Homo sapiens: one gene and its partners. The protein of the gene in region 1 purifies or fractionates together with the protein of each later gene. This does not show direct contact. Each region holds a gene or a part of one and is shown in the gene's direction. Other genes may lie near its edges.

Evidence for each region.
Region 2: the proteins of BLMH (region 1) and CLIC4 fractionate together in Homo sapiens (co-fractionation; one large-scale study listed by BioGRID). This does not show direct contact.
Region 3: the proteins of BLMH (region 1) and G6PD fractionate together in Homo sapiens (co-fractionation; one large-scale study listed by BioGRID). This does not show direct contact.
Region 4: the proteins of BLMH (region 1) and DSG1 purify together in Homo sapiens (affinity purification with mass spectrometry, with the first as the bait; one large-scale study listed by BioGRID). This does not show direct contact.
Region 5: the proteins of BLMH (region 1) and CASP14 purify together in Homo sapiens (affinity purification with mass spectrometry, with the first as the bait; one large-scale study listed by BioGRID). This does not show direct contact.
Region 6: the proteins of BLMH (region 1) and AACS fractionate together in Homo sapiens (co-fractionation; one large-scale study listed by BioGRID). This does not show direct contact.
Region 7: the proteins of BLMH (region 1) and LZTFL1 fractionate together in Homo sapiens (co-fractionation; one large-scale study listed by BioGRID). This does not show direct contact.

Annotation. Positions count from the first base shown.
Region 1 is NC_000017.11:30,288,713-30,293,415, reverse strand, and holds the start of BLMH (bleomycin hydrolase), read left to right. Parts: upstream 1-1,471; 5' UTR 1,472-1,596; coding exon 1,597-1,609; intron 1,610-1,907; coding exon 1,908-2,105; intron 2,106-3,933; coding exon 3,934-4,043; intron 4,044-4,703. UniProt on the Homo sapiens protein: The normal physiological role of BLM hydrolase is unknown, but it catalyzes the inactivation of the antitumor drug BLM (a glycopeptide) by hydrolyzing the carboxamide bond of its B-aminoalaninamide moiety thus protecting normal and malignant cells from BLM toxicity.
Region 2 is NC_000001.11:24,838,922-24,842,294, forward strand, and holds part of CLIC4 (chloride intracellular channel protein 4), read left to right. Parts: intron 1-938; coding exon 939-1,120; intron 1,121-1,851; coding exon 1,852-2,016; 3' UTR 2,017-3,373. UniProt on the Homo sapiens protein: In the soluble state, catalyzes glutaredoxin-like thiol disulfide exchange reactions with reduced glutathione as electron donor. Can insert into membranes and form voltage-dependent multi-ion conductive channels.
Region 3 is NC_000023.11:154,540,027-154,544,212, reverse strand, and holds part of G6PD (glucose-6-phosphate 1-dehydrogenase), read left to right. Parts: intron 1-1,760; coding exon of another isoform or gene 1,761-1,949; exon of another isoform or gene 1,950-2,001; intron 2,002-2,821; exon of another isoform or gene 2,822-2,975; intron 2,976-4,186. Other genes in the region: IKBKG (NF-kappa-B essential modulator), read right to left, coding at 1,761-1,949. UniProt on the Homo sapiens protein: Catalyzes the rate-limiting step of the oxidative pentose-phosphate pathway, which represents a route for the dissimilation of carbohydrates besides glycolysis.
Region 4 is NC_000018.10:31,355,751-31,360,023, forward strand, and holds the end of DSG1 (desmoglein-1 preproprotein), read left to right. Parts: 3' UTR 1-3,496; downstream 3,497-4,273. UniProt on the Homo sapiens protein: Component of intercellular desmosome junctions. Involved in the interaction of plaque proteins and intermediate filaments mediating cell-cell adhesion.
Region 5 is NC_000019.10:15,051,954-15,055,796, forward strand, and holds part of CASP14 (caspase-14 precursor), read left to right. Parts: intron 1-252; 5' UTR 253-298; coding exon 299-325; intron 326-1,528; coding exon 1,529-1,678; intron 1,679-1,779; coding exon 1,780-2,005; intron 2,006-3,204; coding exon 3,205-3,321; intron 3,322-3,402; coding exon of another isoform or gene 3,403-3,476; coding exon 3,477-3,580; intron 3,581-3,843. UniProt on the Homo sapiens protein: Non-apoptotic caspase involved in epidermal differentiation. Is the predominant caspase in epidermal stratum corneum. Seems to play a role in keratinocyte differentiation and is required for cornification.
Region 6 is NC_000012.12:125,063,541-125,068,262, forward strand, and holds the start of AACS (acetoacetyl-CoA synthetase), read left to right. Parts: upstream 1-1,894; 5' UTR 1,895-2,044; coding exon 2,045-2,177; intron 2,178-4,722.
Region 7 is NC_000003.12:45,824,936-45,829,121, reverse strand, and holds part of LZTFL1 (leucine zipper transcription factor-like protein 1), read left to right. Parts: intron 1-506; coding exon 507-683; intron 684-1,662; coding exon 1,663-1,766; intron 1,767-2,789; coding exon 2,790-2,808; 3' UTR 2,809-4,186. UniProt on the Homo sapiens protein: Regulates ciliary localization of the BBSome complex. Together with the BBSome complex, controls SMO ciliary trafficking and contributes to the sonic hedgehog (SHH) pathway regulation. May play a role in neurite outgrowth. May have tumor suppressor function.

The DNA of each region.
Region 1 (4,703 bases):
ACTACAGATAGTCTAAAAGTTGTTTTGCATCTCTTTCCTACTACATTGAGTTTCTTAACGGCAAGATTAAGCTTTGTTCGTCTCTATGTCATCAGCAGTTTGTCCAGTGCCTAGTACATGTTAGATACTGAATAAAAATTTATGACTTGAATTGGGCAGGATGCTTGAACATCATTTTGTGAAAGGACCAGTGATTTCTTTCTGTATAATTTTCAGCCTCTTCTTTTTCAGATATTGAAAGAACCTCAGAATAGGATGGTTGATGGGCCCACTTAAGATAGTTGCTATGTTATAGCCCCAATTTTTAGCCGAGTCTCTCTAGGGACATAGAAACCGTGCTTTCTCAAATGACTGATTGGTGCCTGAGTATGGATTTTTCCAGATATCAGAGTTCCTTAGAACTGCGATGATTTTCAATCTAAGAAGACCTAGATTCTAGGTTACACACACACACACTCAACCTCATCGTTTTGAATAGCAGATACAGGGTTTCAGTGTTTTTGTTTTACTCTCTGTGGGTTCTATCCCAGCATCTTACTAAGGGCTGAGATTTCAGGGCATGAAACACGGAATCAACAAAAACAAGGTTTTTACAATCTCAAAACTTTGGGAAACTGTTGAGTTATCTTGAAAGCCTAGAGGGGGAGCATCAGTTAGTTTTGTAGAGAACTCGGCGAAACAATATTGATGCATACGGCTAGCCTCTGTCATCCTCCTGAGTTAAACCCAACGGGACATGCTGGACTATACAGGAGCCACTCGTGGACTCCGTGAAGACCAGATGGGTAGTGTTCTTGAAATGAGCAGATGTCTATTTGTAGAACTCTGGTAGTAGCTTTGGAGTGGGTGGGGAAGAGCTTGGTTCCCATTCCCCCTCAAAGACAATTATTTGCTTCTGATGAGAATCCAAGCAACAAGTTGCCATTGAGAATGCAGTGATTGGTCAGCAAACGAAGCCTATAGGAAGAGCCTTCGGGTGCATTCCTTGTGACATATCGACCCGTCCTAAGCCCGACGCTTAATTATGGGACCTCTCAGCTCCTCCCTCCCGCCTCGAGCTCCCTTTTGGCTTCTCACAAGGCTTCCTGGGGACGATTCCCCGATGCTAGAGTACTGGGGGTCTGGGCCCACAGGGAACCCGTCAGCCTCCCTCCTTGGAGCGGGCCTGATCCCGGGAGGGCGCCCGCGCGGCCCGGAGGCGGGAACCTAGGGGGAGAAGGCGCCGGCGCCGCCCTGGCGCGCAGACCATCTGTGCGGTCCTGCGCGGGGGCAGGCGCGGCCTCAGCCCCCGGGCGCTGGCGGACCCAGCGCGTCAGCTAGGCCGCCCCCGTCGGCCCTCCCCCGGGCGGGGCCAGCCCCGACGGCGCTGACTCAGCAACGCGAGGGGGGAGTTTTGTCCCTCCGCGGACCCCGTTTCTCCCAGCCTCAGCCTCCCCGCCGCCGCCGCCGCCGCCGCCGCCGAGCCGGTTTCCTTTTTCCGGCGCTCCGGGTGCGAGAGACAGGTCGGGCCCCCTAGGCAGCGAGCCGCAGCGCAATCCCGGCGCTCGCCCAAGGACCCTGGAAGCTACCGTTACCCCGCCGGGCAGCGTGGGCGCCATGAGCAGCTCGGGTGAGGTGCCGCCGTCCCCCGCCGCGGTCCTCTGGAGGAGCTCCGCGGTCCCCGTGAGGCCCGGCGGCGGGGAAGGCCGGGGGCTGGGACCCTTGGCGATGGCGGGGAGGGAGCTTTCGGGGCAGGCTGGATCGGCCTGGAGGGAGACAGCTCCTTGGAGGAGGATGCCGCTTATGGGTTTCCCCGCTGCAGCGGGCACCCCAGGATGCGCTTACGAAGTTAGATTCGGGACGCGGGAGCCCCAGATCAGCCCTTTCCCCCTCTTTTTGCGTTAAAATCCTGTTTGGTCTCCCAACAGGACTGAATTCGGAGAAGGTAGCTGCTCTGATACAGAAACTGAATTCCGACCCCCAGTTCGTACTTGCCCAGAATGTCGGGACCACCCACGACCTGCTGGACATCTGTCTGAAGCGGGCCACGGTGCAGCGCGCGCAGCATGTGTTCCAGCACGCCGTGCCCCAGGAGGGCAAGCCAATCACCAACCAGAAGAGCTCAGGTGTGGGCTTCCACTTCTCCCATACGTTCCTTGACCTTCCTGACAGCGTCCCATTTTGGTGTCTTATTTAAGAGTGGTCTTAAATTCGTACTGAAAGAACTGGTCGTAAATTCGTAAAGAATGAGGCACAGGTACAGGCAGGTCTAAGAACATTACCCATGTGGTTTGTTTTGCTGTTCTGTGGCTTGTTAGTACATGCGGTTAGAGTACAAAAGTGACATGTCCATGAGTATACGTTTGAGTGTAATTGACTATATTATGTTCCAATGCTGTGTGGTTTGTAGCCCGTGTCTTGGAGATGTATGGTCTTGGTCACAAAACAGAACATGTGAAAATGTTCATATCTTTGGAGGACTCCCCAGAAATGCCCTGAAGGCCCTATACTATGAAATAGAAAAGATACAATGTAATTACATTAAAATGTCATCAGATGTTACTTTTAAATATGCTTCTTGGTTACAACTGAAGCTAATGTGCTGATGGGCTCAGTTCCCACCAGTAGATCAGTTTGTAATACAGAAAAAAGTTCTGTTCTCATGCCTTGCTGGTCAAGAAGTCTCGTTTTGCTATCTGCTTTCTAGCACCACTCTCAGAAAAAACAGGTATAGTGAAAGATTGGATATCCAGCAATCTAAATAAGGAGCACATTCTCACAACAAAATTGTACTAAACGGATTTTTTAAAGTCTTTCTATACTTAAAAACGACCCCCCAGTCTATCTATACGGACAGGAAGCACATCAGTGCTTGTTTAGAGTCGGTTAGAACTCACAAAGCACACATTTAACGTGAGTACATTTTATTGTATGTACATTATACCTGAATAAAGTTGATTTTTTAAATGTTAAGGAAAAAGTCAAGACCTTACAATAATTAATGTTTTGCTTTAGAAGAAAGTGCTTGGAGTGGTGTGGGCTCTCAGGCTACAGATGATCCAGTTAGTAATGTCACAGTGGTCCTACATAGTTTAGATTGCAGTGACCCGTTAGGGAACAGGTCAGGTCTTACACATTTTGCAGTGTCACTTTTACATACAAAAGATCCAAATAGCATGTGAGTTGTGTAGTTTATTTTCATGCAGTTTTCACATCACCAGTGCATCCAGATCCCCTCTACTAGAAATATATAGCATATAGAAGAGAGGTGACATACAGGTAAATGTAAGGTAAAGACGAACTAATAGGCACTAGTGACTTTCATAAAACACTATAGTTAACTAGAGTTTTCTTCTTGTTACAAAATTATTTTTGTTTAATGTAGAATATTTGTAAATACCAAGTAAATATTTTTCTTGTATATTTGTCAAGTTTTGTGTGTGTGTGTGTGTTTAATAGTGTTTAATATGCATTGATACCTTATACATTGTTATGTAAGCTACCTATCTTTTTCACTTACCAATATATTATAAACATATTTTCATATTAGTAAAAAGGTTATACCCAATACAAGTCAAAGTTTTTCCCTCAGAATTTTCCCTCAGAAAAGAGATAATTTCCCTGTATTTAAGACCTTAAAAGACTTTTCTAATGGCGCTCTCAGTTAATTTATTTTGAAGTAGAGTACAATTTGGAGAAGGCATTACTCTGAAAAATGGATTCTTTATTTGATACGTAAAGAGTGTTTTTGTGTTAAAGATATTAAACCTTTGCATATATATTGCTAATAATAATTACCACCTTTCTTGTTTTGTTTTTAATCTTTCTGCTCTTTCTGATTTACTCTTTCTGAATTGTCCAGATCGTGTCATGAGTTCATTGGTGGGAAATACAGTTGGAGCAGTGCAGTCTATGTGAACCCTCATAATTTCTTGATGTGCTTTCTTGTTTCAGGGCGATGCTGGATCTTTTCTTGTCTGAATGTTATGAGGCTTCCATTCATGAAAAAGTTAAATATTGAAGAATTTGAGTTTAGCCAATCTTACCTGTTTTTTTGGGACAAGGTATGGGACAGATCTGGCAAGATTCTTTTTGTATTGATATCAGCCTTGGTAGGGACTGCCTCTTCTTTTGTAGCTTTTCCAGTTATAGCCTGCCCTTTCATAATAGGTGAGACACCTTTTATTCTGACTTCCAGAGTATCAAAAGTTGACTCTTTCAAAGGCAGAACTGTTTTTGGTTGGTAGGTGGCCATTTTTTTGCAATGAAATAAGTTTACTGACTCATCTTACTGCTTGCTTGTCTATTTAAAATTTTAAATTTTATATTCAATATTCAATTCAATATATCTCCCTTTTTAACATCTTTTTAGGTTATTTGTTCTTTTCTAGGACCTAATTTCCCTCTCAAGAACTTGTCTGAAAAACAGTAAATAATTTTATTTGATTGTTTATTTGTTTATTTATTTTTTTGAGACAGTCTCACCCTGCCACCCGGGCTAGAGGGCTGTGGCACAGTCTCGGCTCACTGTAACCTCTGCCTCCTGGGTTCAAGCCATCCTCTCAACTCAGCCTCCCAAGTAGCTGGAATCACAGGCACATGCCACCATGCCCAGCTAATTTTTGTATTTTTAGTAGAGACAGGGCATTTCACCGTGTTGGTCAGACTGGTCTCGAACTCCTGACCTCAAGTGATCTGCCTGCCTTGGCCTCCCAAAGTGCTGG
Region 2 (3,373 bases), on another chromosome or scaffold:
TCATGACAATCAGAGCATCTTAATCTATTTGGTTAAAGAGGCTCCCAGTTCAGTATTGTAAATTGAACTCCTTAATCTGACCTTTGTGTTTTTTGTATAAGATAGTGCTATTCTTGGCTTCCTGTGAATTATAAGACAGTTTTGAAAATCTCAGGTTTTCTGTTTGGATTGTTTGAATTGGTATTTCTTAACACATTTCTTACTGATAAATCAAAATATTCCTGGGGGAGCAGGAATTAAAAATGAGGGCAAAAATCTGCCTCTAAGATTTTTTTAATCCCTAGATTTGAATTAATATGCTTGCCTTTTCTCATCCATTTTTCCAGTTTAAATGTCAAATGTGTTGGACCATTTGTGTTCATGTGTGGGACATTTAGTTGTTAGCAAGTTTTTTTTGAGACAGAGTCTCGCTCTTTCGCCCAGGCTGGAGTGCAGTGGTGCTATCTCGGCTCACTGCAAGCTCGGCCTCCCGGGTTCACGCCATTCTCCTGCCTCAGCCTCCCGAGTAGCTGGGACTACAGGCGCCCGCCACCACGCCCGGCTAATTTTTTGTATTTTTAGTAGAGACGAGGTTTCACCGTGTTAGCCAGGATGGTCTCGATCTCCTGACCTCGTGATCTGCCTGCCTCGGCCTCCCAAAGTGCTGGGATTACAGGCGTGAGCCACCGCGCCCGGCCATTTGTTAGCAAGTTTTTACAAATACCACTGCCTGACATTATTATGCTTATTTATACTTTTACCTGAACAAACTTGTTTCATCCCCTGCCCCACCTAATTGAGCTCTAGGAGAGCAGGAGCCTTGTCTGTTTTGTTCTACAGTACCTTGTTTCAGAGTAAACATTTTTAAACAGTTATTGACTCAAAGAGTCTGCTTCTCCTTGGGGACTTGAGTGGTTTTCCTTCTTACAGTATTCTCATCTCTTTTTTTCCCCCCCAAGCACTGGAGAGGGGTCTCCTGAAAACCCTGCAGAAACTGGATGAATATCTGAATTCTCCTCTCCCTGATGAAATTGATGAAAATAGTATGGAGGACATAAAGTTTTCTACACGTAAATTTCTGGATGGCAATGAAATGACATTAGCTGATTGCAACCTGCTGCCCAAACTGCATATTGTCAAGGTAGGTCTGTAGGGGTTGATGTCGCATTGCCATTACCTTGTATTGTATTTACTAAAGTGGCATTTCCTTTGTGCTCAAAACATTTCTGATTTTATATGACTAGTTGTTTAACTCAATGCTGTTTAGGCAATAGTTGAAGCACCCTAGAGTTAGTTAAATGGAAAATTATGTCTTAAAATTGAGGAATATAAGAAAGATGAATATTTTTTTTTCTGTGACTGCATACAAATTCAAAGATATAATGCGTGACTTTGAATTGGAGTTTGCCACACTGACTTATGTTATCAAATTCTGTTCTGTGATCACACCTTGCTTTCTCTATTGAAGGCAAAAAGTATTGAGCATTTATTATATGAGACACTGGGCTGGGCACATTGTTAAATAGAATAATAATAAGCGCTAGTTGTAAATAAAGACCTAAGATAACAAAAACAGATCTAAAATAGCATATGTGTGTTGTGAAGTATTTTCCAGTGATTATACTTGGCTGTCTTTCTGGATGTCCAAGGCAGTTATTTGCAGTCACTGTCACACTTCTAAATCCCTGGTGTAGCTTGCAGTCTTGGTCATTATTTAAAACTCTGGTTAGAATGATGGTGATGGACTTTTTTTCATATAGAAGCAGTTCTCAAAGATTTAGAGCATTAATTATTTGCTCCAAAATCAGAGATATGTCTAGTTTACAAGACGTGGAAATAAGTCTGTTAACTTTTGATCTCTTTGTATTTCAGGTGGTGGCCAAAAAATATCGCAACTTTGATATTCCAAAAGAAATGACTGGCATCTGGAGATACCTAACTAATGCATACAGTAGGGACGAGTTCACCAATACCTGTCCCAGTGATAAGGAGGTTGAAATAGCATATAGTGATGTAGCCAAAAGACTCACCAAGTAAAATCGCGTTTGTAAAAGAGATGTCTTCATGTCTTCCCCTAAGAATACGCTTTTCCTAACAGGCTACTCCTTCCTGTAGAGCAGAAATTGTATTTTGCACGAACATGCAGTTATTGAAGATTAGGATCAAGGATAGACAAGGTATAGTAGTTATCTTAAAATATACACTCCTAAGCAGTATTATTTTAAAATCCTTTACCCTGGCTACCTCCCCTACCCGGGTTCCCCTCTCTTTAATTTGGAGACACTCCACCACAAACTTTTCACTTTAGAGGTAGCTTGCCATCTCTCAGGAGCCCTCACCATTGTGTCCATTCACTGTGTATAGATGGCAGAACTTTTGAGGTGCAATGTTTAATTGTTAAAAATAGTAGCCACGACTTTATCAGGCAGCCCCAAACTGGTGCATAATGCATGGTACAAGAAATATTTATGTATTTTTTGGAATTTTGTAATATTTAGTAAGAGTATATGAAAGGATTGCTACTGTATCAGAAATATTGTTTCAATTTAGTCTATCCTGGATATGTACTAACGAATATTACCACCAGAGAAGAGAGCTTTCTACAAAAGTCACTACAGATTTTGCTATATTGCTTTGTAGATAGATTTTTACTTTTGCCTAAAAGCATTTATCCTTCATACCAATTGTAACATCTGACACCATGTAGAAGCTAAAAGTTTAGAGGGAGTGAGGGTTTTCTCAAGACCTTCCTCAAGCATTTTATCTTTAGAAGAGAAACTGATGGGCACCTGATACTCTGTCTAAATACGTTTGTTATATGTGTTTTGCCCTGTGCCATTCATTTGGAACTTTATTGCATTCTTTATTTTAAAAAGCTTGTTTTTACGTAATCATAGAGCTTGCTATTTGTACATCTGTTGAGCAACACTACATAACTGATTTTTAGTTGACTTAGCTATAGCAGTACAATGATTAGTAATGTAAAAATTAACACAGAAATTAACCTAAGGAATGAAGGGTGGGTTTGTCAAAATATCAAGTAAATTTTTGTTTCTAAAGTACATTTAATGTAGATGACCTAAAGAATGCGTTATCCATCCTATATAAAAGAAAGATAAAACACAGGTCACCAATTTTCTCATTTCACCCCATTTACCTTGTATAGAGGATTGTTCATTCCTTTGGGACTAAGTTATAGTTATGGTGAGTGTGTATTTACTGTAGTTTTGCCTGATCTCACTCATTGCACTTCCTGGAGTTAAATTTTCCAACAGCCATGTTGAGGAATAGCACTCTGCATGTTTTTGTTTTGTTTTTCGGGGTTTTTTTTAATTGAAGCCCTAAACCAGGAATTATTTGTGTTCTAACAGGAGGATGAACTTGCTGAAAATAA
Region 3 (4,186 bases), on another chromosome or scaffold:
TCCAGCCTGGCGACAGAGCGAGACTCTGTCTCAAAACAAAACAAAACAAAAAGGCCGGGCGCAGTGGCTCACGTCTGTAATCCCAGCACTTTGGGAGGCTGAAGCGGGTGGATCATGAGGTCAGGAGATTGAGACCATCCTGGCTAACATGGTGAAATCCCGTCTCTACTAAATAAAAAATTAGCCAGGCCTGGTGTGGGCACCTGTAGTCCAGCTACTCAGGAGGCTGAGGCAGGAGAAAGGCGTGAACTCGGGAGGCGGAGCTTGCAGTGAGCAGAAATCGCAACACTGCATTCCAGCCTGGGTGACAGAGTGAGACTCCATCTCAAAAAAAAAAAAAAAATAACAAAAATTAGTTAGGTGTAGTGGCACCCATCTGTAATCCCAGCTACTTGGGAGGCTGAGGCAGGAAAATCGCTTGAACCCAGGAGGTGGAGGTTGCAGTGAGCTGAGATGGCACCATTGCACTCCATCCTGGGTGACGGAGTGAGTGAGACTCCATCTCAAAAAAATAAAAATAAAAAGAGCCATACCTGCATCAGCCACAAACCTTAACAGCCAGGACTCTGACCGTTAAACCCTTAGTCCAAGAAGCAGACTGGAGGAGAAGGTAACTGAGGTTGCTTTCTCCATCCCCACCCCATGCTGTCACAAGGCACTGCAACAGAGCAACCCAGGCCACAATGATAGCTTATGACTCCTGGCCTTCAGCTCTTATTAGACACCTCATTGAGAGCATCCAAGCTTGCTGTGTGAGTTGGAGCAAGTGTCTTCCTTTTCCTGAACCTCAGCATTTCGTGTAGCAAATGACAGCTTTTGAAACGAGGGCCCAGGGTCCTTAGGCTTTTCCAAGCTGATTTTGTCATTTCACTGCCTCCGCCTGTGGCCAGCTTCGGGTTGGGCAACTTTGTTTTGTTGAAATCAGTAGGGTTCCCCTTTGCTCTCCTCTGTTCTGAGAGTGACAACCTGAGGCTTTCAAAGCAGAAATAGGAAGTGCCAGCTCCAGCACTGTGGGTAGGGGACAAGGGGTCCTCTCTCTGAAGAGCCTCGTGGTTTGTTTTTTCCTCTTCCTGCTGTGGGGGAGATGGGAGGTGGCGTGCTCAGGCAGCACCTGGAACAGCTCCGGCTCCCAGGCTTCTTCCACGCCTGATGCCTCACTCGGTGCGGGAGGTAGGCAGGGTGGCACTTGAGGGCACGTGATCCTAGAATCTGCTGTTCCAGGAAAGCAGCCCATTCTCCGTTCATTGAGCAGACAGCGATTGGGTACTTCTGGGCCACAGCAGCCAGTCCCTGCCCTCCTCATGGGACCTATGTGCTATTGCGGCCAGGGAACCACGGCAAGTAAGCAGACCAGCAAGAGTTCAGGCTGACGTGTGTTTCAGAAGATACACATGGGCCCTGTGTCCCCAGTCCCCCAAAGCGCATAGATCCCACAAAGAGGGCCGGGAGAGCACAAACACAGAAGGAAGAGCAAATGCCCGGAGCCCCGAGTTGGGAACAAGCTCAGCATGACCTAGAAACTGAAAGCAGGCAAGTGGCTGGCAGACCCACAGCCTGGGCAAGCAGGACACCCTGGGGCAGGCTGGACCCACGTGGCCTTCCTCTGTCCCTTCCTCCTCCCTGGCCAGCTTACCTCACACTTGCCCACACACCCAGCTTCCTTCCTGGGGGCCCTGATGGCACCTCAGAGTTACCAAGTGGGCCACTTCCTGCCTTCTCAGGACTCCCACCCCTACCAGAAAGGGAGCCGAGGTACTTACTGCCCCCTTCCAGAAAGCTCTGGCCTTGTAGACTAGTGTGCGCCTGGAACAGCATCTTTCCCCACCTGATGGGACCTCGATGATGCTGGAGAGCTTCACAGGGAGTGAGGGGAAGAGACTGGGATTGATAGTCTGCGGGGTCCTCACTTCTCTGGGCCTTAGTTTCCCCACCTGGATCACAAGGGCCATGGGCTTGATGGGCGTTCAGGACGCATCCCAATGATGGGCCTGTGGGAGGGATGACCCAGCGGCCCCCGCCTCCCCTTTCCTCAGAACATTTCTGGGCTGACTTCCCCATTGGTCTGATAAGATTCTTGCTGTGTCATGATGATGTTGGCACTCCCCCAAAGCCCCGGTGACTCATGAGCCCCCGGGTATAGCAGGGAGGCCCTTTTGTTGGTTTTTCAGCTGAACTAACTCAGCAGCCCCCAGGTTCTCTGGCCCCAGTGGCCAGGAACCAGCTGGGCCCCTGCCAAGGCCCAGGGCTCCACCCAGGGAGTCTGGGCAGGTCCTTAACCCCAGTGACCCTTGGGGATGGGATGGCCCACCCCCGCTGGCCCTCCAGCAGGCATCGTGCTCTACCATGAAACCCTCATGCCAAGACAAGGGCTGCAGCGATTTCGGTTTATAAAACAGACAGGTCATGGCCCAGGTCCCTTTGCCCTGGCCTAGCCAGATGTTGGTGGCTAGAGATCTTCATCATGCCCTGCTTCTACTAAGTCACCTTGTGTCCTTGGGCAGATCCCTCCCCTGCTGTGGTCCTCAGGAAAGAGGAGGGCGTGGGGAAGATGAGAAGCTCCCAACTGCTTTTCACTAAGGACCCCTTGAATTGCCCCCACCCACATGGCACGAGTAGACTCTTGACCAAGCTGTCAGGTTTCCCGATGTCTTCCCATGTTTGTTCCTCCAGAAAGTCCCACTAGAGCATCGCAGCCAGCTGGGAGGGCAGGGCTACCCCTGAGTCCTGAGGAGAGCAGCTCAGTCCGGCTCAGCTCAGCTTAGCTCCCTGTCACCATGGGAGAGAGCGGCCTGCCTTACCCCACCCCTACTGTCCGTCTTACCTCACCTCGCCTCTCAGGTGACTTGGAGCCCAGCAGACGGTCGGTCGGTTGCAGGGCCTGAGCTGAAACAAGGTGAGCCGGTTCAATCTCTAGTTAATCCCAAAGGGAGCAGCAGGAACAAACGGCCTGGAGCGTGGGGTTGCTGTGACTCAGCAGACCAGTCCCCTGCCACCAGTACCTTTCTGGAGTCTGTCCCGATGCCTCCCAGTCTTCCGGAATTTGGTCATGAGCAAACATGACCTGCTTTGAGTGAGGCTTAGAGGTATTTGCAGGCTGTGGTTCTTTCCGTTTATTTCAGGGTCCAGTTAGTTCCCAGTAAGCTGACCCTTTCTGTGTGGGGCCAGCCGTGAGTTGATGTGACATGGGCAACGTTCCCCTCCCCAGCCCCACTGATGGCAGGTGCTGTGAGGAGCTGAGTAGAGGAGCTCCTACCCCAGGGCGAGGGGTTGTCTGCTGGACTTTGAAGGGTGCAGCAGTGAGAGGTCCGTGTCGCTGTAGTCCTGGCACCGAGCTCACCTGAGGAGCATCAGAAGTGGAGCAGGGCCCCTGAAGAGCGCAAGCACACAAGGCACCCACACCATAGCAGTTGCCCTCCTGGAAGCCCTGTGGTGGCTTCCTAACTGCCTGGCTCTGGGTGAGGGCGTTTGACCTGGTGGCATGGCCCCCATTCTGTAATGGTTTGTAGAAATGGACCCATCCATGGTTGCAGTGCCTGATTGCTTCGAAGAGCATGTGTTTTTTTTTTTTTTTTTTCGTGACATGGAGTCTTGCTGTCACCCAGGCTGGAGTTTGGTGGCGCAATCTTGGCTCACTGCAACCTCCGTCTCCTGGATTCAAGTGATTCTCCTGCCTTAGCCTCCTGAGTAGCTGGGATTCCAGGTGCCTGCCACCACATCCAGCTAATTTTTGTTTTTTCTTTTTTTTGAGATGGAGTCTTGCTCTTTCACCAGGCTGGAGTACAGTGGCGCAATCTTGGCTCACTGCAATCTCCACCTGCGAGGTTCAAGCAATTCCCCTGCCTCAGCCTCCCGAGTAGCTGGGACTACAGGCGCGCACCACCACATCCAGCTAATTTTTTGTATTTTAGTAGAAACGGGGTCTCACCATGTTGGCCAGGATGGTCTCAATCTCCTGACCTCGTGATCCACCCACCTCAACCTCCCAAAGTGCTAGGATTACAGGCATGAGCCACCGCGCCTGGCCTGTATTTTTAGTAGAGACGGGGTTTCACCATGTTTGCCAGGCTGGTCTCGAACTCCTGACCTCAGGTGATCCACCCTCCTCAGCCTCCCAAAGTGCTGGGGTTACAGGCATGAGCCACCACGCCCAGACTATTAGTTTTTACCATGTTTTATTGAAATATAT
Region 4 (4,273 bases), on another chromosome or scaffold:
ATGTGTGCCAGATGCCCTGTTGGTTTCACAGATAACATAAATAAAAATTCAACCACAGATTTATACAAGGGTTAACCATTTTTTTTAAGTTTGACTACATAGTCAAGTCCACAAGCCATCAAGCACTCCTACCTTAATTATTGCACTAGAGAAAATAAATTCCAAATTAGGAAGTGTTTCCTAGGAGGAAAATTCCATTAGAGAGTGGCAATAGGATGAGGTTTCTTCAGGGTAAACTAGCAATGCCTGAGCCTGAACCTTAATGTGGGGCCTCAGTTAAATCTCCTGTGGAGTCAAGGATTCTTCTGATTCTAGTGTGTGTTTAGTGATAGATGTAGTCTTGACGAATATTGCTTACTGGTGAGGTTGAGGAATATCACACTCGTCTTTCCCTTTACCACTGTGGTTTTGACTTAAGAAAGCAAAACTCACTAAGTTTACTTCTCGAATTGAAGCAAGTGAGGCCTGACATGGTTGTCATCACTAGTGGCAAATGACCTTCCAAGTAAGCAGATGGGAACTGAATTGTGTTTTCAGGTTTTGTTTTTAGTAGGTGATATTCATTCGTATCCAGCTCTTTATTACATAGCTCTGAAGTTAAAATGATTTACATAGGCCGAGCTGTGGACAAAAAAAAAAGAAGCAGCAGCTTGTAGTATGCTTAAGCTTTGGGGAATTTTTTTTTAAGGGGATCTAAAAAAATGTTTTTAGAACATGTAAAATGTTTAATGGTGAAAGTTGGAAAAGAATTCTTCTGTAAAGTAATACCATGCTAATTATTCGCTTTTAGTAAGTAAAGTAGTGGTTGCTTTAGCAAACCTCTGCTGCCATTTTGCAGGAATCAACCAGGAACCTTTAGCAGAATTGACAATATGGTGTTGATAAGCATGAAATAATAATAGAAACCTATTCTGCTAGTTTATCTCACCCTCTAATTTTTCTCACTAGCATAAATTTTAAATTCCTGATTTGATTTGTCAATAAGATCTTGGCTTATATATGCTGATTTATAGGTAGTGTCCAAATTATATAGTATAACATATTTTTCTAGTTTCAAAATTTAGTAATGTCCTATTTATGATATATCATTTCTGTGTGTTTGCTATGTAGTATTACCCAATTAAAAATCTCTAAAAAGAATTAAAGCATTCTAAGAAAAAGGTAAATTTACTATTGCATGGTACAGAAATTTTTTCTTTCTTAAATACAATGTTACTATAAGCTCACTAAAATGAAACTCTATATGACAAAATAAAATTAGAAAAAAATTTGCCCTGGAGTTGTGAATTATATACAACTTTTAAAGAATTTACCCCAATTACTCAAATTTCCCAGGAAATTACAAAGCCAAAGAATATTCAACTTCCTCCACTGGTCAAAAGAGGATAGGAGTGAATTACTGAACCTAGAGCTATTTTGCTCTGTAACAACAGATAAGGCTAATATTTTAAAAGCCACAGTATACATCTTCTTTTAACTCTGTAGAATATGTAAAATTTTGATAGTCTGTAGTATGCTAAATGCAGAAGTATAAATAAAGTCATTCAAAGGGAGTCTTTTCTTTTTCTGACACTTAGGGGGCCACATTAAGGATGGGTAATCTTTCCAGGAATAAAGTCAAAAGGTATTTATTAAGACATACTTGAGTATGCCTGGGTCCAGGAGTTTTAAGGAATAGAAATAAGTATTAATGAATTAATTAAGTAATTTATTAAAGGGAATGGTAGCTGACCACAGGAAACTTGCTTACTGTTTTGATATGAAATATCATCACAAGCTTTTCTTAAGACATCTGATATCTTCCAGAGATATTTTTTAGGTTGTCTTGCAAACAACAAAATCACTGTCTTTAATAACTGTTGCTGTCAAAATCCATTGGTTGTTAAGATCCCCCCAATTTAGTTACATCTGAACTCCTAAACACTGTTAAACGATGGGAAAAACAAGAAAAAACATGGCCATTTGAGTCATTGAGTCATCTATCTTTCTAGGAAGATACTTTCTAACCAAACTTTTCTTCCAGGATTGCAAATTGATGGGAAAAACAAGAAAAACTGAAGTATTAGTCACCTATCTTTCTGGGAAGATACTTTCCAACTAATTTTTTCTTCCAGGATTGCACACTGATTTTCCATTTAGTCCTAAATTTTAAAATTCCCTTTTCAAGACATCAACGATTTTAGTAGTTATTTAAAGGCATGTCATTTTTCAATGAAGAAGTTTTGGGCAGAACTTCATTCTTCTTCTTAGATGTTTACTCTAGATCATATACATCATGTCATAGACCAAGAAGAGATATGGAAATTATTTTATAAGTGAATACTATAATTAGGATTCAAGCTGAGTTTCAGATCAACTTGCTCTTAACAAAAGGAAAAAGAAATAGTAATTTAATACTATGTATGTATGGTTTGAAAACAAACCACAATGTTTATAAAATATCTATCTGACTGTCTAAAGAGGTAATCTTTAGGAGCAAAAATCAGTGTATTATAAATACTTTACCATTTAATATCAACCAAAATACCATCTCAAGCTAATTTTGACACTGAATTACAGATATATCTGCTACATATTATTTACTTCTAAGCATGTTGTCTGATGTAATTGCATTTGCACTGAAAAATTAAAAGAAAAAGTACATATTTAGGGTTATTTATATATCTTCATCTAGACATCTGTTCTACATTTGTGTATAAAGTTTTTAGCATCATAATTTTTATTCAAGAAAATGTTCTGACAAAATTTTAATTATATGTCTTCAAAAATTACATTTTTTACTCTAGTAAGTAGATGTTTTTAGTTATCTGGCAATTTATTTCTGAATTTATACCAATGTTTGATTGTCATGGTACAAAATATATGACACCCTTTAACTTTTGCTGGAGTTGAAAGGCATTATAATCTTTAGCATAAATGGCCATGACTATTTTGGAAAGACATTTAAGACCCAAAGCAAACTTTTAAAAGTATTTGCCACATTTTCCCATGCCTATTTCATAAATTCCAACTTTTTTTTTTACAATTTCTGGATTTTTAAGACCCATTTCACATTGCACTAGGATACAGCAGTCCACAGTAGAGTGCTACTCTCCTTGAAATCAAATCTGTCTTCCACTTCCGGATTATTCAATTTATGTTAGGACAAATCTTGACTAGATCAACCTGTTTTCCATCAGATAATTTTAAAACAATGTGTAATCTTGTTTGTCTACATTCTCTCCCCAGTTTAGCTGTATTTGAATTACTAAATGCTTTATCGTCAAACTGTACCTAGTCTAACTTATTTTTCTTTTGCTGTCGTTTTACAAGCATTTTAAAATTCTAATATTCATCTCTGGTGGTGTTTAACACAAGGTTCTCTTATTCAAGTTTCAATATAAAAGTTTTTGGATTATTTGGGTGCTAGTTTCTTGCTTGGTTATCTGTTCGTTTTTTTAAGTTGATTTGTAATTTCCAAAGAGTTATGCATACAGCAATAAAATTATTAATATGCCTCCCTTATCTTTTCTGAATTGTAAGCAAGGGGGAGGTTTTAGACTGTAAAACCAAAGTTATCAAATCTAGTTATTATCATCCTGTATTGGAGGAGATACAATTCTTTTATTTTCACAATGTTAAAATATGTTTTCATTCTCCATTTCCTAGCTATCTTTTTTTAATGTGTACTGAGGAACCTACTCTCTGGACCACTAATTATAGATGCTAGAGCCCAGCCTTGACCAGGTGGTTAGCCCCACAAATGAACAGATGATAAAAAGCTGCATTTTTAGTTCTTATTTAATACTTGTAGCATCTTTATACTTTTACCTTTCTTTCTTTCATACTCTGCATTTTTATTTTTGCCTACACCAGCATTTTATTTCTTTTAAAATGACTTTTCTTCTTTTTTGCCCTTTAAATCATACCCTTTCATCTTTACTGGGATGCATCTCCTTTTGTTCTCCAATGCCACTTCCAGACTATTATCAACTTCATCTTGCACAAAATCTTACCTCTTTCAGACTTGTATGATCCTTTCCCTCTCTTCTCTTCTTCATAATGTCTCTACTTTTAATGAAGGCTCCAATATCCTGGCCTAAAGTCTTTTGTGACTTTCTTAACTTCTGAGAGTGTTCATAGTAACTTAAACATCCACGTGGATGAATCACCCAAGGCCCAGATTCTCATTTCTAGACCTCCATTTCCCCCCTCCACTCAGCTGTCATTTCTTTTCATAACCTGGCATATTGGTACCTGGAATGCCTCAGTTTCTGTCTCTACAGCCTCTGAC
Region 5 (3,843 bases), on another chromosome or scaffold:
GACATTGTGGGGTAGGCTCAGCAGTTCTGAAGAAGACATCCAGAAATGGAAGACATCGTGAAATTGTCATTCTAGGGGTGATATATTACTACTTCATGGATTATCATCTATTGCCCAGATCTGTCCACAGACCAAATCCCCACCACTTGAGTGCTATTTGGTCTCAAAAATCCAGATACATAAGCCAGTTTGTCCCCTGAGCCCCTCGGCCTCCCTTTAGAGAACTTTAACCTATCTTCTCTTGACTCCAAGGATCAGACAAGGGTGCTGAGAGCCGGGACTCACAACCAAAGGAGAAATGAGCAATCCGCGGTCTTTGGAAGAGGTAGGCTGGGTGCAGGTTGAGGGGAGGGTGATCATCTGGGGAGAAGGAAGGTGAGGATTTTAATGTTTTGGAAAGAGTGGAGGGACTGAAAAAATCATGATCTGAACTCAGAGCTAGGAGGTACTTTGTAGTCAATCAAACAGCAAAAAAAGACTCAGAGATGGAACCGAAGTTGGGTTGGGTGGTGGGGGCAGTCAAACACAGCTACCTCTGTCTCCAAAGATCAAGTTCTTCTCAACACATTAAAGGTTCTGAGAAGTCCTGCAATAAACAATTTCATGTTGATTTTTTAAAAGATGAAGTTCTTACCACTGGGGTGCTCAGTACGCTGCTTCTGTTCTGGAAAGAACTGTTGACCCCCAATATTCTTCTTCCTCAGACGGGATCTCAGTATTAGCTTCAGAAACTCTGAGACCTCTGCAAGTGAGGAGGTAATAGAGGAATGCTCAGAACACTCTTGGGGAGGATGAGGAGACCTGCAAATCCACAAAATACGACAACTGGAAGGGATCTTCAAAATCACACACACACTCATTGTCTATATTTGGAAACTGAGGCTCAGATGGGAGCAGTGACTTCCCCCAAGTTCATACCAAGCTAGAAAAGAGCTGGACCCCAGGTTGGGTTGCTGTATTTGGGAACTAAAAATAAAGGACACCCAATTCAATTTGAATTTCACATCAACAACAAATAATTATGTAGTATAAGTATATCCCATGCAATATTTGGGATATACTTATACTAAAAAGGTATTTGGTTTTTATTTGAAATTTAAGTGTACCTGAGCATCTTCTATTATACCTGGCAACCCTAAGCCCAAGCCTCTCTTGTTTTGTTTGTTCATTTTTGAGACAGGGTCTCACTTATTGCCCAGGCTGGAGTGCAGTGACAAGATCATAGTTCACTGCAGCCTCAACTTCCCAGGCTCAAGCTATCCTCCCACTTCAGCCTCCAAAGTAGCTGGGACCACAGATGCACAGCAGCACACCCAGCTATATTTTTCATTTTTTGTAGAGACAGAGTCTCACTATGTTGCCCAGGCTGGTCTCGAACTCTTGGGCTCAAGCAATCCTCCCACCTCGGCCTCCCAAAGTGCTGGGATCACAGGCATGAGCCACCACACCCAGCCTGCATGCCTCTTTTGACTACATCTGCTTCTCCTTGAACCTCTCCATGCTGATTTCTGTCTTCTCTTGGCCCCAGGAGAAATATGATATGTCAGGTGCCCGCCTGGCCCTAATACTGTGTGTCACCAAAGCCCGGGAAGGTTCCGAAGAAGACCTGGATGCTCTGGAACACATGTTTCGGCAGCTGAGATTCGAAAGCACCATGAAAAGAGACCCCACTGCCGAGGTATTGGGGTGCCTACTCCAGGCCTGTTTGGGGGAAAGGTACTAGGTTGGAAGTGTAGGCTATGGGGACCCAGCTGAGTCTGGTTCTTCCTCTCACTCCAGCAATTCCAGGAAGAGCTGGAAAAATTCCAGCAGGCCATCGATTCCCGGGAAGATCCCGTCAGTTGTGCCTTCGTGGTACTCATGGCTCACGGGAGGGAAGGCTTCCTCAAGGGAGAAGATGGGGAGATGGTCAAGCTGGAGAATCTCTTCGAGGCCCTGAACAACAAGAACTGCCAGGCCCTGCGAGCTAAGCCCAAGGTGTACATCATACAGGCCTGTCGAGGAGGTGGGGACAGATCCAAGAGCACAGAGTCTGTGGTTTGTTGTTTCTGTTTTGTTTTTTGAGACAGCACCCAGGCTGGAATGCAGTGGCGGAATCTCAACTCACTGCAATCTCCATCTCCCAGGCTCCAGCCGTCCTCCTGCCTCAGCCTCCTGAGTAGCTGAGACTACAGGCTCCCGCCACTATGTCAGGCTAATTTTTGTAGACAGGGTCTGATTATGTTGCCCAGGCTGGTCTCAAACTCCTGAGCTCAAGCAATCCTCCTGCCTCAGCCTCCCACCATGCCCAACCAAGTCTGTGTTTTTATCCAAGCCAGTCCCAGATCCAAAGCCCCAGCTGAAGCCAGGCACCATGGCTCATGCCTGTAATTCCAGTACTTTGGGAGGCCCAGGCGGGAAGATTTTTTGAGGCCAGGAGTTCAAGACTAGCGTCGAGCAATGTAACAAGAACCCAGCTCTATGAAAAATATTAAAGATTAGCCAAGGGCATGGTGGCATGGGCCTGTGGTCCTAGCTACTCAGGAGGCTGAAGTAGGAGGATCACTTGAGCCCAGGAGTTAAGAGGCTGCAGTGAGCTATGATTACACCATTGCACTCCAGCCTGGGCAACAAAGCAAGCCCCTGTCTCTAAAAAGTTAAATTAAATTAAAAAGCCCCACTGCACATGGCATACCACAAAAGCATCCTTTTTTTTTTTTTTTTTTTAGACGGAGTCTTGCTCTGTCACCCAGGCTGGAGTGCGATGGCACAATCTTGGCTCACTGCAACCCCCACCTCCCAGGTTCAAGCAATTCTTCTGCCTCAGCCTCCCAAGTAGCTGGGATTACAGGTGCAAGCCACCATGCCTGGCTAATTTTTGTATTTTTAGTAGAGATGGGATTTGACCATGTTGGTCAGGCTGGTCTCAAACTCCTGACCTCAGGTGATCTGCCTTCCTCAGCCTCCCAAAGTGCTGGGATTACAGGTGTGAGCCACCGTGCCCAGCCCTTACCTTTCTTTTTAAGAGGCGACATCTCGCTCTGTCTCCCAGGCTAGAGTGTAGTGGTGCAATCATGGCTCACTGCAGCCTCAAGCTCCCAGGTTCAAGTGATCCTCCTGCTTCAGCCCCCCAAAACACTGGGAATACAGGTGTGAGCCACCCTGCCCAGCCCCTTTCCTTACCTTTCTCTCTGACTTTGCCTCCTCCTCTTCTTGTTGTTTCAGAACAAAGGGACCCCGGTGAAACAGTAGGTGGAGATGAGATTGTGATGGTCATCAAAGACAGCCCACAAACCATCCCAACATACACAGATGCCTTGCACGTTTATTCCACGGTAGAGGGTATGAGCTCCCAGCTGGCCCAGGGATCCCTCTGCTCTTCCCCCTCTCCTGCCACTCCCAACTCCTGAACCTCTCCTCCAGGACCCACGCCCTTCCAGGATCCCCTCTACCTACCCTCTGAAGCTCCCCCGAACCCACCTCTCTGGAATTCCCAGGATACATCGCCTACCGACATGATCAGAAAGGCTCATGCTTTATCCAGACCCTGGTGGATGTGTTCACGAAGAGGAAAGGACATATCTTGGAACTTCTGACAGAGGTGAGTTGACAAAAGGTAGCTGGGACCACCGCCCAGGCCAAGAAGGGTGCAGGCGGAGGGGGCTGAGCCTCCTCCTAACCCCTCTCCATTTCCCTCAGCTCCAAATCCAAGCCAGATCTCAATACAGAAACTAAGAAGCCCACTTTCCAACAACTTTCCCAAATGCAGGGACTCTTAAAAGCCACAGTATGGGAGATAAATTTCTATAAACAAATCCCCCTTGGATATAAACAATGTTTGGGCAAACTGTTTTCTTTTAATGT
Region 6 (4,722 bases), on another chromosome or scaffold:
GGCTTTTTTACTGCAGCGTGTTTTATCAGCAAGGTGTTTATGACTTGTATTTTGTGCCGACCTCCTGTCTCATCCTGTGACTTAGAATGCCTTCACTGTCTGGGAATGGAGCCTAGTAGATCTCAGCCTCATTTTACCCAGCCCCCACTCAAGATGGAGTTGCTCTGGTTCAAATGCCTCTGACATTAAGACCAGCTGGCTGTTAACCTTAACTTTAGCCAAGACAAACCCCAATTCAGTTACTTACCTAGGGATGGGTCTTAGGCTGTAGACTGCTCTCTACCATTCTAGAAGCAGGAAAAAAGACCTCATCTTCCCTGTTGGAAGCGAGCTCAAACTCCATAAAGGAGTTACCTGCCTTCCATTGTCATGGAAGCAGGAAACCTTGCCTTCCTTGTTGGAAGCAAGTAAAACTGCAAAGAAAAGAGTTGTACAGCAAAATAAACTTTAGATCTCCACCAAATTTTGGGAGATCAGGGAGGCTCTGGAGGGGGTGCTCTCAGACCTGGGCTCACTCTTGTAATCCCAGCACTTTGGGAGGCCGAGGCGGGTGGATCACCTGAGGTCAGGACTTCAAGACCAGCCTGGCCAACATGGTGAAATCCCGTCTCTACAAAAATGCAAAAATGAGCCGGGCTCGGTAGCTCACGCCTGTAATTCCAGCACTTTGGGAGGCTGAGGCGGGCGGATCACCTGAGGCCGGGAGTTGGAGACCAGCCTGACCAACATGGAAAAACCCTGTCTGTACTAAAAATACAAAATTAGCCAGGCGTGGTGGCACATGCCTGTAATCCCAGGTACTCGAGAGGCTGAGGCAGGAGAATTGCTTTAACCTGGGAGATGGAGGTTGCCGTGTGCCGAGATCTCGCAATTGCACTCCAGCCTGGGTAACAAGAGCGAAACTTCGTCTCAAAAAAACAAAACAAACAACAACAACAACAAAAAAAAAAACACGAAAAATTAGCTGGGCATGATGGCGTGTGCCTGTAATCCCAGCTACTCAGGAGGCTGAGGCAGGAGAATCGCTTGAACCTGGGAAGCAGAGGTTACAGTGAGCTGAGATTGGGACATTGCACTCCAGCCTGGGCGACTGAGTGAGACTCAAAAAAAAAAAAAAAGCTAAGGCGGGGAGGGGGCCTTCCAGGTCATAGGTAGATAAGGGACAAATGGCTGCATTCTTTTGAGTTTTCAATTAGCCTCTGCAAAGGAGGCAATCAGGTGTGCATTTAACTCAGCAGAGGGGTGACTTTGAATAGAATGGAGGCAGGTTAGCCCTAAGCAGTTCCCAGCTTTTCTTTTCCCTTTAGCTTAGTAGTGGGGCCCCAAGATTTATTTTCCTTTCACAAATGTGTATTTTGATACCCATTGGCATACTATGTATATTATTGTATTATACTATGACATTATCTTGTGTATGTACACGATGTACTTATTTGTTAATCGTCTCCCGTCTTCCTCACACCTGTACCCCTCCTCTCCTGTTGACAGAGAACAAGAATTTTGTTTTGTTCGCTGCTGTATCCGCAAAGCTCCCAAAGTCCTCCGAATGCCGCAGGCTCTCAGTAAAGACCTGCAGGAAGAAATAGCGAATGAATGATGTACACGTGTAGGAAACAGCGGGCTCGGACGCCTGGCTTCTCCGGCTGCCCTAACGCCCTCCAGCTCCAGGTGAGGTCGGGGAGCTGGGGCCAAGGCTCGTGAGCGCCCCTCACCCCCACGCCCCCCGGCCGCGGGCGCTGGAGCCGGCGGCTGCGAGCACTCCTTTGAGCGGCGCTGCACTCAGCGGAGGGTTACAGGCGGGAGGGCGGGGCCTGGAAGGGGGCGGGGATTCGAGGCGGGGCCTGCGGGGCGGGGCCTGGGCCAAGCGGCCCGCAGGAGGCGGCGGCGGCCGTTCAGTCCCTTGTTCCCCGCCGCCGCCGTCGCTGACCCAGCCCGCCAGGCGCTCCTGACCGTCGCTTCCTCCGGTCCCAGGTCCCCGGCCCTCGCCTCAGCCCCGGCCCCTGGTCCCCAGCCCTCGTCGCAGCCCCGGCCGCCCGCCGCCGCCATGTCCAAGGAGGAGCGCCCCGGTCGGGAGGAGATCCTGGAGTGCCAGGTGATGTGGGAGCCTGACAGTAAGAAGAACACGCAGATGGACCGCTTCCGGGCGGCTGTGGGCGCCGCCTGCGGCCTGGCGCTGGGTGAGAGTCGGGCGCGCGGCCGGGCCTGCGGGGGATGGGCGGGAGCCGTGCAGGGTGGTTGGGTGGTCTCCCCATGGCTAGTTTCACGCTTCTGGGGCTGGAGGAGCCACTTGATGGCGGGGAGGCCTTCTGACTGCGGGGTTCCCCCCAGTCTTGGGGAACATCACCCCTCCACAGCACCTCCTGGCACTTCCTGACTCTGCAGCGTCTCCTCTGCATGTGGGGGTCACCCTCTCCCCGGGAGTGTCACCCCTCGGGAGGGCCAGCTGCCTGTTGACCGTGTGACCCCTTGCTAGGCTTTCCTACCTGTGAGGTGCTCCCTGGAGTCTTGACCTCCGGCCTGTGGGGGCTTCCCCCGGACATAGGGCCTTTTTGACTTGCAGCTCTTCCTCTGTTTGTGGGGGTCCCTTGCCAGTCCCCAGTGCCGTGCACTCTGTCCCCCTGACCTCCCTCATCTCCAGCTGCCCCTGCTGGAGGCCAGCACCTAGCAGGATGGTCAGGCAGGAGGCCCTGTCCACGTGTCTACACTCCCAGCCCCCAAACAGAACCTAGTAAAAGACTCTCTTTCCACCCATCACCTTGAACCTCAGAAACTGCCTCTCTCGGTGCGGGTGGGGCAAAGGCTCCTTCTCCGTGGGGTAACCGCTCCGGGTGCTCTTCCTGAGCTCTAGCTGGCTTGCCCAACTACCAGCTCCACCCCTCCACCCTGCCTCCCCTAGGTATTCCTAGGGGATTTTTTTTTTTTTTTTTTGAGACAGTTTCTCTCTCGTTGCCCAGGCTGGAGTGCAATGGCGAGATCTCGGCACACTGCAACCTCCGCCTCCCGGGTTCAAGTGATTCTCCTGCCTCAGCCTCCCGAGTAGCTGGGATTACAGGCATACACCACCACGCCTGGCTAATTTTGTATTTTTAGTAGAGACGGAGTTTCTCCATGTTGGTCAGGCTGGTCTCGAACTCCTGACCTCAGGTGATCCGATCGCCTTGGCCTCCCAAAGTGCTGGGATTACAGGTGTGAGCCACGGCGCCTGGCCTCCTAGGGGATTTTTAACTCATGGTCTCCCCTCCTCACCCCCTCCGCTGGCGCAGGGACTCCCTTGTTTCTGTTGGTGGCGTCACTGTTCTTGCTCAGGCTCACAGGGATGGACACCCCAGTCACCTGTGGCACCAGAAGTCTTCTGCCACAGCCCCATGTCGCTCACATCTCCTCCTTTGCAGCCCCTTGTCAGGGGTTCTGGGGCCTCCTTTCCTCCTCACCAAACAGTGGTTGGTTTTCCTGCTTCCTGCTTTTCCATCCATTTGCATCCTGCTTGCTTTGCCAGAGTAATCTTGAAGCATACAGGTCTTACTTTGTCACTCCTTGGCTCAGAAGTTCTCAGTGGTTCCTTGTTGACCACAAAATTGCAGACGGCTGCCTGGCAGCTTCCAGGCCCTCCACAGCAGTGGGGAGCTTCCACAGAGTCATTTTCCTAGGCTAACCCAGAGCTGTTCCTCTCCTTCCCTTCCTCTCCCTTGGAGACAGGTGTAGTCTGTTGCCCCAGGGGCTTCTGGACAGCAGTTGGTAAATGAGTATGTGTTGGATTAGGGCAGCCTGGAGACTCCTGGAAGAAGCAGGAGGCTGCCATGTGGGATTATGTTCTTCCTCTGTGTCACCTTGCCTTGATTCCATCTGTTTCCTCTGCCAGCAATAACAGAATGCTGGTCTGGTGCCTGTCTAGCCCTGATGTTATGAAATAATTTCAGATCGGGCAGCCCTATTAGATGGGTGAAACCACCTTCCTCCGTGGGAAGTGTTGAAGAGAAGGGATTTGTAATCTGACTATCTGGATTTTTTTTTTTTTTAAGCCTCGCTTTTCTCCCCCAGGCTGGAGTGCGACGGCGCAATCTCGGCTCATTGCAACCTCTGCCTCCTGGGTTCACGCAGTTCTCCTGCCTCAGCCTCCCGAGTAGCTGGGATTACAGGTGCCTGCCACTATGCCCGGCTAATTTTTGTATTTTTAGTAGAGACGGGGTTTCACCATGTAGGCCAGGCTGGTCTAGAACTCCTGACCTCAGGTGATCCACCTGCCTCGGCCTCCCAAAGTGCTGGGATTACAGGTGTGAGCCACCGTGCTCGGCCGACTACCTGGGTTTTGAACTAGCTCTACCACTTACCAGCTGTGTGATCAGGAGGAAGTCATTGGATCTCTTCATGCCTTGTTTCCTCATCTGTAAAATGGGCATAACAGGACCTGAGTCATTGAGTGGGTGTGCAGGTGACAGGAGATGGTCAAGCCCAGTGCTCAGCTCTGCCCTGGGTCCCTGGGGTTGTGGAGTAAACATGAGCAAGTGCTGGGAGGGCCCGAGCATGGCTGCGGAGCTCCTTTCCCTCCTTCAGGGCTCTCAGACTGGTGGCCCATGGGCCAGGTCTCATCTCCAGACACACTGTTGAGTTGCCTGCATTTAAAAGTTAGGAGAGGGGGCTGGGCGTGGTGGCTCACACCTGTAATCCTAGCACTTGGAGAAGCTGAGATGGGTGGATCTTTTGAGCCTAGGAGTTTGAGACCAG
Region 7 (4,186 bases), on another chromosome or scaffold:
CTTAAAAATTTAGAAAACCATGTAATCAGTAATTGTGCTCTCATATTATTTCCTTGTAAATAATGACTAAAACATATGTCTATTAAGTTTTTGGTATAAATTATATTACTTTTATCATTTTTTCTATCATTTTGAAGAATTCAAACTTCTTTGAGGATTTTTTTAAATTTGGCTTTTCAAAATGAAACCTGTTTGCCATCTCAACCCTGGTACACACATCTTGGATGGAAATACCAGCAGTTCACAAATCATATTTTATGTATTTGGAATTCAGTGGCTACTGAGTGTCGGCTGTGTGCAAGACACCACGTACCCAGGGCTGACAATGGACTGGCCTGCTGGTGACTCTGAAGGGGCTGGCACTTACCTAGGCTGGCAAGGGAGGCTGGCATGCACACAAAACATACATCATTTTTTTCATCTCCTATGATGTTGAATCACCATTCTAAAACAGTTATTTTTAGAATATCAACATGAAATTACATGCATGCATTTATTTTTCATAGGATTTTATAAAGGCCCAAGACTTAAGTAACTTAGAAAACACTGTCGCTGCCTTAAAGAGTGAGTTTCAGAAGACACTTAATGACAAGACAGAAAACCAGAAGTCACTGGAGGAGAATCTGGCGACAGCCAAGCACGATCTACTCAGGGTTCAGGAGCAGCTGCACATGGCTGAAAAGGTCAGAAGACCATGTTTAAGGGATTTGTCTGTTAATGCATGATTAATGCACACAGTATAGAGGAATACATGTGGCTAAGATAAACGTTGGACAACTGCAAATTCAGATTATTTTTTCTCAAGGTATTAGCCAATATGTTCTAAAGATTAATCATTTCCGGGCACTGATATTCTTCCATCTTTGGTACTAAAATATCTGTGATAATAAGACATCTCCTCTCCCTCTATGGTGTAGTGAAATGCTCCTCTGTAGGTGGCTTGAATCCTGCCCTACATCCCACCATGTTGCTCTTCTGCTCCTTCTTCCCACAGCCTGCAGAGGGATGAGGGACTGTTTTTTTTAAGGACTTCTATACTTTTGTCATAATTTATATAAAATATGTAGAGAGCTAGATTCTTCACTTTGGGGATTAGACTCTTAAGAATATGGGAGTTGAGGCCGGGTGCAGTGGCTTGTGCCTGTAATCCCAGCACTTTGGGAGGCCAAGATGGCAGGATTGCTTGAGCCCAGGAGTTCAAGACCAGCCTGGCCAACATAGCAAGACCCCCATCTCTATAAAAAAATTAAAAATTTTTTCATATAAAAAATGGGAAAAAAGAATATGGGAGCTAAAATTTAACTAAATTAAAAATCATTTTGCTAAAATACACTACTATGGGACTTGGGAAAAAAGTGTGCTTATTTTACAGGAAAATTAGTTTAATATTTCAAATAGATTTATCATATCCAGGGCTTGAGTTATTTACCAACACTGTACTTGGGAAAATGTTACTATTTTATGGCTTCTCATTTGAAAGAATATATTTTTAAAGTTTGGATAGTCTTAGTTTTATATAAATGTGTCCTTTAAGGAAATTAGAAAATCATTAGCAAAATACTAGTAAAATTCAAGCAAAAAAAACTACATATTTTTATCGCATTTGTTATCTCTTTCCTTAACTATTTTTTTAGTAATGGGCTGACATTTTTTACTAAGCAGGAATTAGAAAAGAAATTTCAGCAAACAGCAGCTTATCGAAACATGAAAGAGATTCTTACCAAGAAGAATGACCAAATCAAAGATCTGAGGAAAAGACTGGCACAGTAAGCCACACTGATCCCGCCTTTGGATTTCTCTCTCTGGATTGATGTTTGTTCTCTGTTAAATCTAAGCTTGTTCCAGAGAGGTCAAGCCGGTGGTAGTTGCTGGATCATTTAGTCCAGAAGCCTTCATTTGAGGAAAGTGGAGGAGCTCTGGCCTGACCTTATCTATAATGCCCACCAGGGCTTCTTTTTAGGTTCATCTAGGCCTTTAGACTCACACAGGCCTACAGTAAGCTGCTCTTGGCAATGGATTCACTTAGCAGGATGTCAGACAGGAAACACAGCAAGCTCGCAGGGCAGCATTAGGTAGTTCTCTTCTCCTTGGTGGTATACTCTAAGCAGTCCAAGAACTGGTCTTACTGTTCCCCTAAATGACAGTTTAAGTTGGAGAGAATGAGATTCATGCAGATGGGTGTCATAGCCAGCTTGGCTTAGAAGTCCGTGTTCTACATAGGATTAGTATCTCTCTTAGCAGTCACATGATACCCAGTTAAGGGTATGTCCAGTTAAAAGAACTCATCGCACAGGGGGAAACCTAAAGTGGTGGCTCCCACCATGTATTTATAGTTCATTCATAGTCCTCCAGGTCCAGATGTGGTCATCAGATGTTTTGCCTGGAAACTGAGTTGACATTTTACCTTTATCAGAGTTCCAGGGGAGCAGAGCTAGAAAGGGAATTCAAGGTGAGATTTGTCCTTAGAGAAGTAGATTTGCTAGCCCTTTACTCATATAGTCGTATCAACTGTTCTTGTCAACATGATGATTGAGGTAATTATATGAAGTTATCACAGGTCTAAATGCCAAATATACAGACTTGGAGCCTTAGCAGTGATCTGGCCTATCCTCCTACCTGATGTAAAAATCCCCTCTGAGTCACCATCAAAACAAAGTTGAATGTGTCCAACTTCTACCGTAACAGTAATTTGAAGTGAGAAATATAGTGCCACTGCTTCAAGTAAACTTATTTGGTAATAACAACAACAAAAGGTATCCTGACATTGTGTTCTTAATTTATATCTCCAGATATGAACCTGAAGATTAAAACTGAAGATTTCCTCTGGAAGCTACCACATGCAAACATACAAGCAGTCTCACCTCAGGCATGTATTTTGAAAAGCATTTTGTCATATCCCCTCTCCTTATTTTTCTAATATTTAGACTTTGAATATTTAGAACTAGAGTTCCTATTTTCAGCTAGTTGAAAACAGAGAAAACCTAGTGATTCTGTCTGGTCATCCCACACACCTCTCTACTGAGTGCTCCAGAGTCTTAGCTCACATGCACTGAGAATTCTTTACAGCAAAGAAGAGATTTTTAGAGTGGGAAGAAGAGGCTTATCCTTCTGCATTAGTATAAAGAGTCTGTATTTTTAATAAATGTTAAATAAGCTAACAATGTTTGTACTTATGCATTCCCCATGGGTAAAAATAAATAATAGCATTGTTAAAGATAGTTATTACCAAAAAAAGAGAGTTATTACAAATAAATATGTCTCTTTATTTTTAAAAATGAAATCTTAATTCATTTACTCTATTTGATGATAAACTATAAATTCATTGAAAATGTGAATTCTATTATGGGTAGCCTTTTTACCAATTATAAGGAAAATTTACAGCAGTGAACATGAACATTCACTTAGCTTCCTCAGTCTCTCCATCTTAAAGATCATTTATCAGAGGAGGTTCAGCATTTTTTGCAGCATAACTTTTCATGAGTCTGTATTACTAATGGATAAGTCAAATCCATCCTGCACTTCTACAGTTTAGAAAGTATCTGGACTCAGAATAAATGTAATATTTATACTTGTTTCCAGAATGTTATTTTACATTTTATGTTCAATAAGAACACTTTTTAAAAGACGTATATTCAACATAAAATCAGCTATCAGACTTCAGATTAGACTTTATTTATGTGGGTCTATAATAATTGTATTTTCAAGAGGTTTTCACTATATTTGTATTGGCCTGGTTTTCTCAGACGATTTTGGACAAATCATTAGAAACTGGGCATCATATCCACAGTTATGTAAGGCAGTGATATACTATAAGGATAAACAAAGTCAAGTCCATAAAGCAATAATCCCTCAGAAGGAAAGTCCTTACTTTTCACATATTAATATTTAGTAATTTTTCCTGCTTCTAAAAGTGAGAGTATCACACCCTAAATGAACACTGTCTACTAAGAGACATCATTCCATTTCCACAAATGAAGATTTTATTCCAAGAAACGAGTTTACTGATTGGAGCATAGGGCTTGTTGTTATTTTTATTCAAGCTTTTAGTAATAGCCTTGAATTTATTATTTTTCTTATAGGCTTTTTGTTAAAATAGTGAAGGAACAAATGTTAAAGGGTAAGATAATTTCCCTGCAAAAGGACACAGAAGGCAGTCTTAAGAAGATGAATGGATGAGAGAAGGGAG